Linked DNA regions of Homo sapiens. The protein of the gene in region 1 purifies or fractionates together with the protein of each later gene. This does not show direct contact. Each region holds a gene or a part of one and is shown on either strand. Other genes may lie near its edges.

Evidence for each region. The genes of interacting proteins can lie anywhere in the genome.
Region 2: the proteins of MTARC1 (region 1) and RAB6C fractionate together in Homo sapiens (co-fractionation; one large-scale study listed by BioGRID). This does not show direct contact.

Annotation. Positions count from the first base shown.
Region 1 is NC_000001.11:220,800,413-220,803,912, reverse strand, and holds part of MTARC1 (mitochondrial amidoxime-reducing component 1 precursor), read right to left. Parts: intron 1-3,500. UniProt on the Homo sapiens protein: Catalyzes the reduction of N-oxygenated molecules, acting as a counterpart of cytochrome P450 and flavin-containing monooxygenases in metabolic cycles.
Region 2 is NC_000002.12:129,978,413-129,982,465, reverse strand, and holds the start of RAB6C (ras-related protein Rab-6C), read right to left. Parts: upstream 2,801-4,053; 5' UTR 2,351-2,800; coding exon 1,586-2,350; 3' UTR 1-1,585.

The sequences.
Region 1 (3,500 bases):
TCTCAAGCACATATTTTCAACAGTCCAGAAAACTGGGCACAGCGGATTAGCACAGCCACAGCCTGTCCTGTGAACATTTCTCCACAAGGGGGCACTATGGTCACAAAAAAACACATAAAAAGGGTATAAAAGGAGAGAAATAAGGGTTCCACTTAGGAAATTAAGTTATTATTAATTAAAGAAATACTTCCAGAGCCCCTTCTATTCCAAAAAAAAAACTACTGGAGATTGAGTCATAAGCACTGATGAGCCCAGGAAAGTCTTCCTACAGCACCTGGAGGTGACCAGTTCAAACAGGACAAGCCTGGTATGGGAGAGGCTCAGAGCACACGGTAGCTTCAGAGAAGGGAGGGAGCGCTTTGAGGTCCAGCAATCAGAGCAGGCTTCCCAGGGGAGGGGGCTTTTAATCCAGGCTTTTAGAGAATGTCAAGAGTTTTAAGTAGGGAAGGGAGTAAGATTCTCAGTGACCAGGAGACACCAGTTTGCAGTTTGGAGCTTTCGTTCGTGATATGGTTTGGCTGTGTCTCCACCCAAATCTCATCTTGAATTGTAGCTCCCATAATCCCCATGTGTCATGGGAGGGACCCAGTTGGAGGTAATTGAATCATGGGGGCGGGTCTTTCCCATGCTTTTTTTGTGATAGTGAATAAATCTCATGAGATCTGATGGTTTTATAAAGGGCAGTTCCCCTGCACGCACTCTCTTGCCTGCCACCATGTAAGACGTGCCTTTGCTTCTCCTTCACCTTCTGCCATGATTGTGAGGGCTCCACAGCCATGTGGAACTGTGAGTCCATTAAGCCTCTTTTTCTTTATAAATTACCCAGTCTCGGGTATTTCTTCATAGCACTATGAAAATAAACTAATACAGTTGGTAATAAAGGCTGGAAAAGCAGACTGTGGCAAGGTTACAGAGGAATGTAATGATTGAGTGGGAAGTTTGGACCTTTGTGACATGGAGAGCCACTAAAGGCTTCTGAGCAAGTCAGCAACACTGATGATTTGTTACAAACTTTTAGAGCGGGAGAGATCACGCTGATCAGCTCTAGGAGGCTTGGCTGTGGCAACATTCAGGAGGGAGCACTCAGTGGTCCAAACTTAAAGTAACAAACGTAGGATCTGGCTGGTGGCTAAGGATAGAAAGGGGAGCCGACATGGCTGGGGCTGGGAGGAACACAGCAGAGGGAGGAGCCAGGGCCGACTGTCACGCTCTGAGCCTGGGTGAAAGAAAAAAACATGCTGCCCTGGATAGAAACTGTGAAGTCAACAGAAGGAGTTTGGGGGCCAGGCGCAGTGGCTCATGCCTGTTATCCCAGCACTTTGGGAGGCCAAGGCGGGTGGATCACCTGAGGTTAGGAGTTCGAGACCAGCCTGGCCAACATGGCAAAACCCTGTCTATACTAAAAATACAAAAACTAGCCAGGCATGGTGGCGTCTGCCTGTAATCCCAGCTACTCAAGAGGCTGAGGCAGGAGAATCGCTTGAATCCGGGAGGCGGAGGTTGCAGTGAGCTGAGATCATGCCAGCGCACTCTGGCCTAGGTGACAGAGCAAGACTCTGTTTCAAAAAAGAAAGAAAGAATGAGTTTAGGGAGGTGGGGTGAGGGTGTAGGGGCTGGGGTGGGAGCACATAAGTCTGAGTTTCTCTGTCAACCAACAAAGAGTTGGAACTGTGGTGCAGCACTCCAGAGGGAGTCCTGGGTGGACATTTGAGGGACCTATGTCAGGTGACAGAGGGCGATGCTGCAGGAGACAGTGTGATCACCAAGGAGGGGAGAGAAAAGGGTCAAGGCCAGAACTTTTGGAAGTAAGGGATGAGGACAAACAGCAGAGAAGCAAGGGCAGTACAGCTAAAGGAGAAACGTTTCAGTAAGTAGTGTCCATGTGTCCTCAGAGCGGGGTGGTGGTGACTGAGAAACGGTCACTGACTGTGGCAGGTAGGGTGGTTGTCTCTACTGTGGCTTCAGGGAGAAGTGAGGTGTAAGAAATGTGTGTGGGGAGTGCCGATGATGAAGGGAGGCAGCGAAAAGCCACAGTTGCTGAGAAGGTAGCTTCCGAGATGAGGAGTGGGTCTGCTTTCCAGAAACTTCCATGCAGGTCCTCGGCCTTCCTCCATGCTAGCCTGCTCTCCCAGCTGCACCCTGGCCCCGCCTGCGCTAATCCTTCTCCAGGCTCCTGGCAGAGGCAAATGTGTATCATGCAAATCGGATTCAGTCACTCCCTGGCCAAAAATTCTTCCCAGACTCCCCAAAACCTGACACCAAGTACCTGTGCTCTCAGCTCCCCTCCTCTCCTGAGCCCCAGCACTGCAAGATGGCCATTCTCTCATACCTTCATAGCCCTGTGTATGTACCCCTCCCTCAGTGCCCCCCTTTCTCCTGGACAATACTTTGTCCAGGTCATTCATTTAACAGATAATTAGTGCACACCTTCTATGTACCAGGGGCTCTCCTAGGGGCTGGAGATACAGCAGCCCCTGTCCTCAAGGAGCTTGCATAGGGGAAACAGACAATACACTGATACCTGAGTACACACGGCTTGTTAGGTGGGGTGTGTGCTGTGGGGGGGGCTGGGTGAGCGGGGTCAGTGAAGCCCGCAGCAGGGGACTGAAAGAGGCACTGGAGTGAGCCATGAGGCCTGTGAGGGAAGATATGCCAGGCAGAGGACACAGCTGGGGCCCAGAAAAAAGGCCAGTATGGCTGGGGCAGAGTAAGAGAGCAGAGGGGAGTGAGAGGAGAAGGGGCTGGGAGCTGGCGGGGTGCAGGTCATGTTGGGCCTTCCAGGCAATCCATAAGGATCCCATCTTTTACTTGAAGAAAGGTGGAGAACCATGAGAGGGCTTTGAGCAGACAAATCACATGATGTGACTTACATCAACAGGGTTACCTTGATGGATGTGCTGAGAACAGCCCATGGATGGTGCAGGGCTGGGTCAAGGGTGGGGCAAGGAGGCCAGTGAAGCCAGGCTGCTGCAGCACCAGTGGTGACTGCATCCGGGCAGAGAGGGGAGTGGGGGGGAAGGCCCAGCCACCAAGATCTGTCAACTGTAGGAACCTAGGATGTGAGAGAAAGAGAAGAACAAGGGGTGGTTCGCAGTTTGGGGCCTGAGCCAGCGGAAGTCAGAGCTGTTGTGTGCTGAGATGGGCGAGACAGCACAGCAGGCTTTGGGGTGGATACCTGACCCTCAATTTCAGACATCCTGACGTTGGATTAGACATCCACATGGAGATATGGAGAAGCAGGGGAAAGCTCTGGCAGAAGGATATAGTTAGGGGTCCTCAGGGCAGAGAAGGTCTTAAAAACAGATGATTAAATAAAAAAAAAAAAGGAAAGAAAGAACAGATCAGAAAAGTGAGTGCAGACAAATGAGAAAGGGTTTGAGACCAGAGCCCTGGGTGCCCCATGCTTCAGCTCACCCCACAATGCAGGTGTTAGTCACGTCCCCACGTCTGGCTGCTCGCCACCCTCCTGGCCATATCTCACTGTGCTGTGACTTTTCACT
Region 2 (4,053 bases), on another chromosome or scaffold:
AGGTTTTGTTGCAATGAGGGGATGAGGAAGTATGAAGATACTTTTGTTGTCTTTTCATCTTTATACTGTGTTAAGTAACGTTTACAACATAAATTCAGCAGGCTTTTCCTGACCTGTAACTCGAAGTTTTCTTCCTGCAAACAATGTATTTACAAATGTGTTTATTAGCTTACACAGCAATCTCACAATAACTAGTAAAGATTAAAAGGGCACACTCCTAGTATATTTGTTTGCAGTGTTTTAAGGGAAATACATATTGCCATGGTGAAGCTCTAAATAGATTCAACGAAACATCTAAAAATGGAAAGTTGTTAAAAAAAAAAAAAGCAAAGAAATATCGCCAAAGAAAAAATATTAATCGTAGCTTAAATATAAAACTAAATCACTAGTTAAACTATACAGATCTAATACAAACCAAAACCAGCCTGAAAGACCCAACCTTAAAAAATGCTAAAAAATAAGGCATAAATCTGCATAATATTCAGTTTTATTTCCATTCTCTCCTTTCCCTCTACTATGTATGCTTTACCTGATCTGCCTCTAGGGGCTTACAAGAAAACGGTTTCCGGTTTCCGTCTTCCGTCTTCCGTCTTCAATTTGACCTCAAATGTCCTGAGCAAAGTTTTTGCTATTCTGCTGAGGGTTCTTTTGCTGGTAAGCTTTAGATATCGTTATTTCTGCTAATTCAGTAGTTTTGATCGTAGTGCCAAATTTAAATTCTTCCACTGGTTCTTCTGTAAGGAATTAAACTTTTATGGTGTCTTGCCTGCATAGTATTATTTTTTTAAGAAAGAAAACCCAAGCAAAATCTATTGCTTACAGAGGTTTCTTACTTTTTAAACAAACAGAATAACTCTTGACAATTTTAAAACCTTGGGAGAAATAGTTCATTAGAACTTCATTATCTTACCATGAAGAAGTAAATACTAAAAACCTGTTCTGAAGCACTTGGTTACTTTTCTCTCCCAGAGTCTAATAAAGCACATGTGAAAGGACCATTTGTGTTAGTCAGAAATACATTTTATGTTCTGCTACTTATAAGTACTCAGTATGTTCTTTAGGACTCATTTTGAAGATGCACCAGGAGGCTTTTCTCATTCAAGCACTGCCTACCGTGATCGCTGAATTCTGACCTCAAAGAAGATCTAAGTAATTTACATCAGTGCTCAAGAATAATTCTGGACATCTTGGTCCACAGCCTACAGCAAGTGGTATCTGTAAAATTAAAGGATAATTCCAGTGGGCTTGGTCGGACTGCTGCTTTGCCATCTCTTGTTTGTTTTGAGGAAGTGGGGGGAGGCTAGGTAAGAACACGGAAATAGGGAACGGGGTAAGGGAGAGGTGAGAAGAGCAAGGAGAGATAAAGCAGGCTGTGAACATACTGCTCGTTAACCAAGCCATACTCATACTGTTGAGATTTCCATCATTTTGAAGTACATTATCATAACATTAAAAAAGAAAAAAATGTTAAGAAAATGTATCTAATTTTTAAAGTTATCACCGGAATATGCTGAAATAATTTGGCTTTTTGTAAAATATAAATAATGAAGACGCTGACTTTTTTTGTGCTTGTGAAGCTAATAGATCACCTCCACGAGACAGGCAGCAATGATGAATTGCAAAACGTTATTAATGAAGGGAAAAGGTTCAAGCCAATATTCACACTGCAGTCAATGAAAGAGTAAGGGGGCTTCTGAGGAAGGGTTGAAGATGACATGGGAGAGTAGCAGGAACAACCCCCTTCGCTGACTGTTTGCTCCTGAGGCTTTTCCAGTTTTATGTCACTCATGTCTTCTCTGCTTCCGTCCTGTGTGCTTTCCATTCCCGGCAAAGCTGCTGCTACACGTCGAAAGAGCTGCTTTACATTGTATCCAGCTTTTGCCCTAGTTTCAATAAACGTAACATTCAGCCCTTTGGCTTTCCTCTCTCCCTCCTCAACTGACACTTGCCTCTTGTCAGCAAGATCTGTTCTATTTCCTACTAGCGTGATGATAACATCACTTCCTCTTTCTGTTCTGACATCATCAATCCACTTTGTAGTTTGCTGGAATGAGTTAACATTTGTGATATCGTAAACTACTACAGCTGCAGCAGAATCACGGATGTACCTGGGAATGAGGCTACGGAGACGTTCCTGACCCGCCGTATCCCACAGCCGAAGCCCGATTGTTCCATCCTCCAAGTACATAGTTTTTGATAAAAAGTCAATGCCAATTATTGCCTGATAGGTGTTGTCAAAACTGTCATACCTGAATCTGGTGATCAAAGATGTCTTTGCAACGCTTTGCTCCCCCAGGAACACCAGCTTGAATTTCCTCAGCGGATTCCCGAAGTCTCCGCCCGCGGACATGGTGGAACTAGAGGAGCTGTCGCCGCCTCAGCCCAGAGACCTCCCGGACCGATGCTCCTCCAGCCGGCTGACGAAAAAGGCGAGCGGAAGGGCGGGCGCCGAGCTCTCTGCGCCCCTGCAAGGGCCGGTGGAGGAGCCCGGCTGGAGGAGCCCGGCTGGAGGGCAGCAGGGCTCGCCACAGACTGGCAGCCGCCGCCGCCTCCCGGCAGAGTAGCCGAGCACGGAGCGAGGCCCGCGGCTGGGAAGGGAAGGAGGGCGGTGTCGGCAGGAGCCAGGGGTGTGCTTTGGCTTCCCAAGGCTAGGGCCGTTCCCTCCTTCCGCACCCGGCTCAGAGACCTGCGGGAGAGAGACGGAGGGTGGCGGAGCCCAAACCGCAGATGTATCCGGGATCTCTCACGCGCGGCGCTTCGGCTTCCCCAGCCGCCGCCGCCGCAGCCCAACCTGCTGAGTGCGCGAGCCTCTGGCGCAGGGCGAGCCAGGGCGCCTCAACACAGTTTTTTAAATACACAAAACATATGTACTAAAAACAATGGTGCGGTGAAAACAAAATAATGCAAACTAGAAAAAGGACAAAATTGACATTTTAAAAACTTTATTATGTATTATTAAATATATATTAAATAGAAATGTTATAAAATTTAACGTCCCTATCTCCCCGTCTCTGTGAGAGGTCAGAAACCTAACTTTTCTAAGCCACAATTAAGCAAACACATCTGGCCTAATCACATGGACCAACATCTCTCCTAACATCAGGCAGGAAGTTTCAGTAGCTCCTGCAAAACTCTCCCACCTTGCATTTGAACAGAAATGTCAACTGATACAATTACCCAAGACTTGTATTAGACTGAATCTCACAATCACACTCAGCCTGATTATTAACCCTTCTCCTGCATCTTGCTCACCTAAATGTATCTACATTTTCTATGAACTGAAGAGCTTAGAAATGTATGTCGTCCATGTATTATAGTGTAAGTTATTGTAATATAGAAATATGGATTTTCTTTAACTCCCATTTTCTGCCTAGGAAATAGCAATGTTTTTTGAGTATGGCAAGTGTTTCCAAGCATTCAGAAGTGGAGAGTGTAGGATATCCACTGCAAAATGAGGTCTGCTTGTCATCCTCTTAGTCTCCACTGCTATCCCTCCCTCATCTCTCTCTGTTTCATTGGTGAGTATGGAAGATCAGTCACTTTTATATGAAATGAAAATTGATGAAACTAAGGTGTTGATTTGATTATCCAAGCAACCATTTATTGAGTGTTCATTACAAGTCAAATTGTGTTCTGGAGAACAGCTCAGGAAATGAATGTTTGACATCGATGTACATAACAGAAATACGAACATACCATTAAAAACTCAGACCTCTTATGACAATCCAGATTCTCATGTAAGTTTTGTGAAGCTCTTTCAAGATGAAAATGTAACAATTCAAAAAAAATTATTTAAACAAGTCATTCTTGAGACATAAAAATGGAATTAGAAGATCATATATGGCTGTTTCACTAGCTGAAATCTAAAGTACTGTTTTTAGTCAATTAACGGCCATATAATTGTTAGTTTTATATACTGATATTCATCAGAAATTAAAAACTTTAAAAAGTATTTCTGTCTCATTCTACTAATTTTAAAATTTCATTTATTTGGTTATATTTCTTCATTTTACCTGGCCTTGAATACTTCTTTCCTGCCCAGCATTAAGTTTA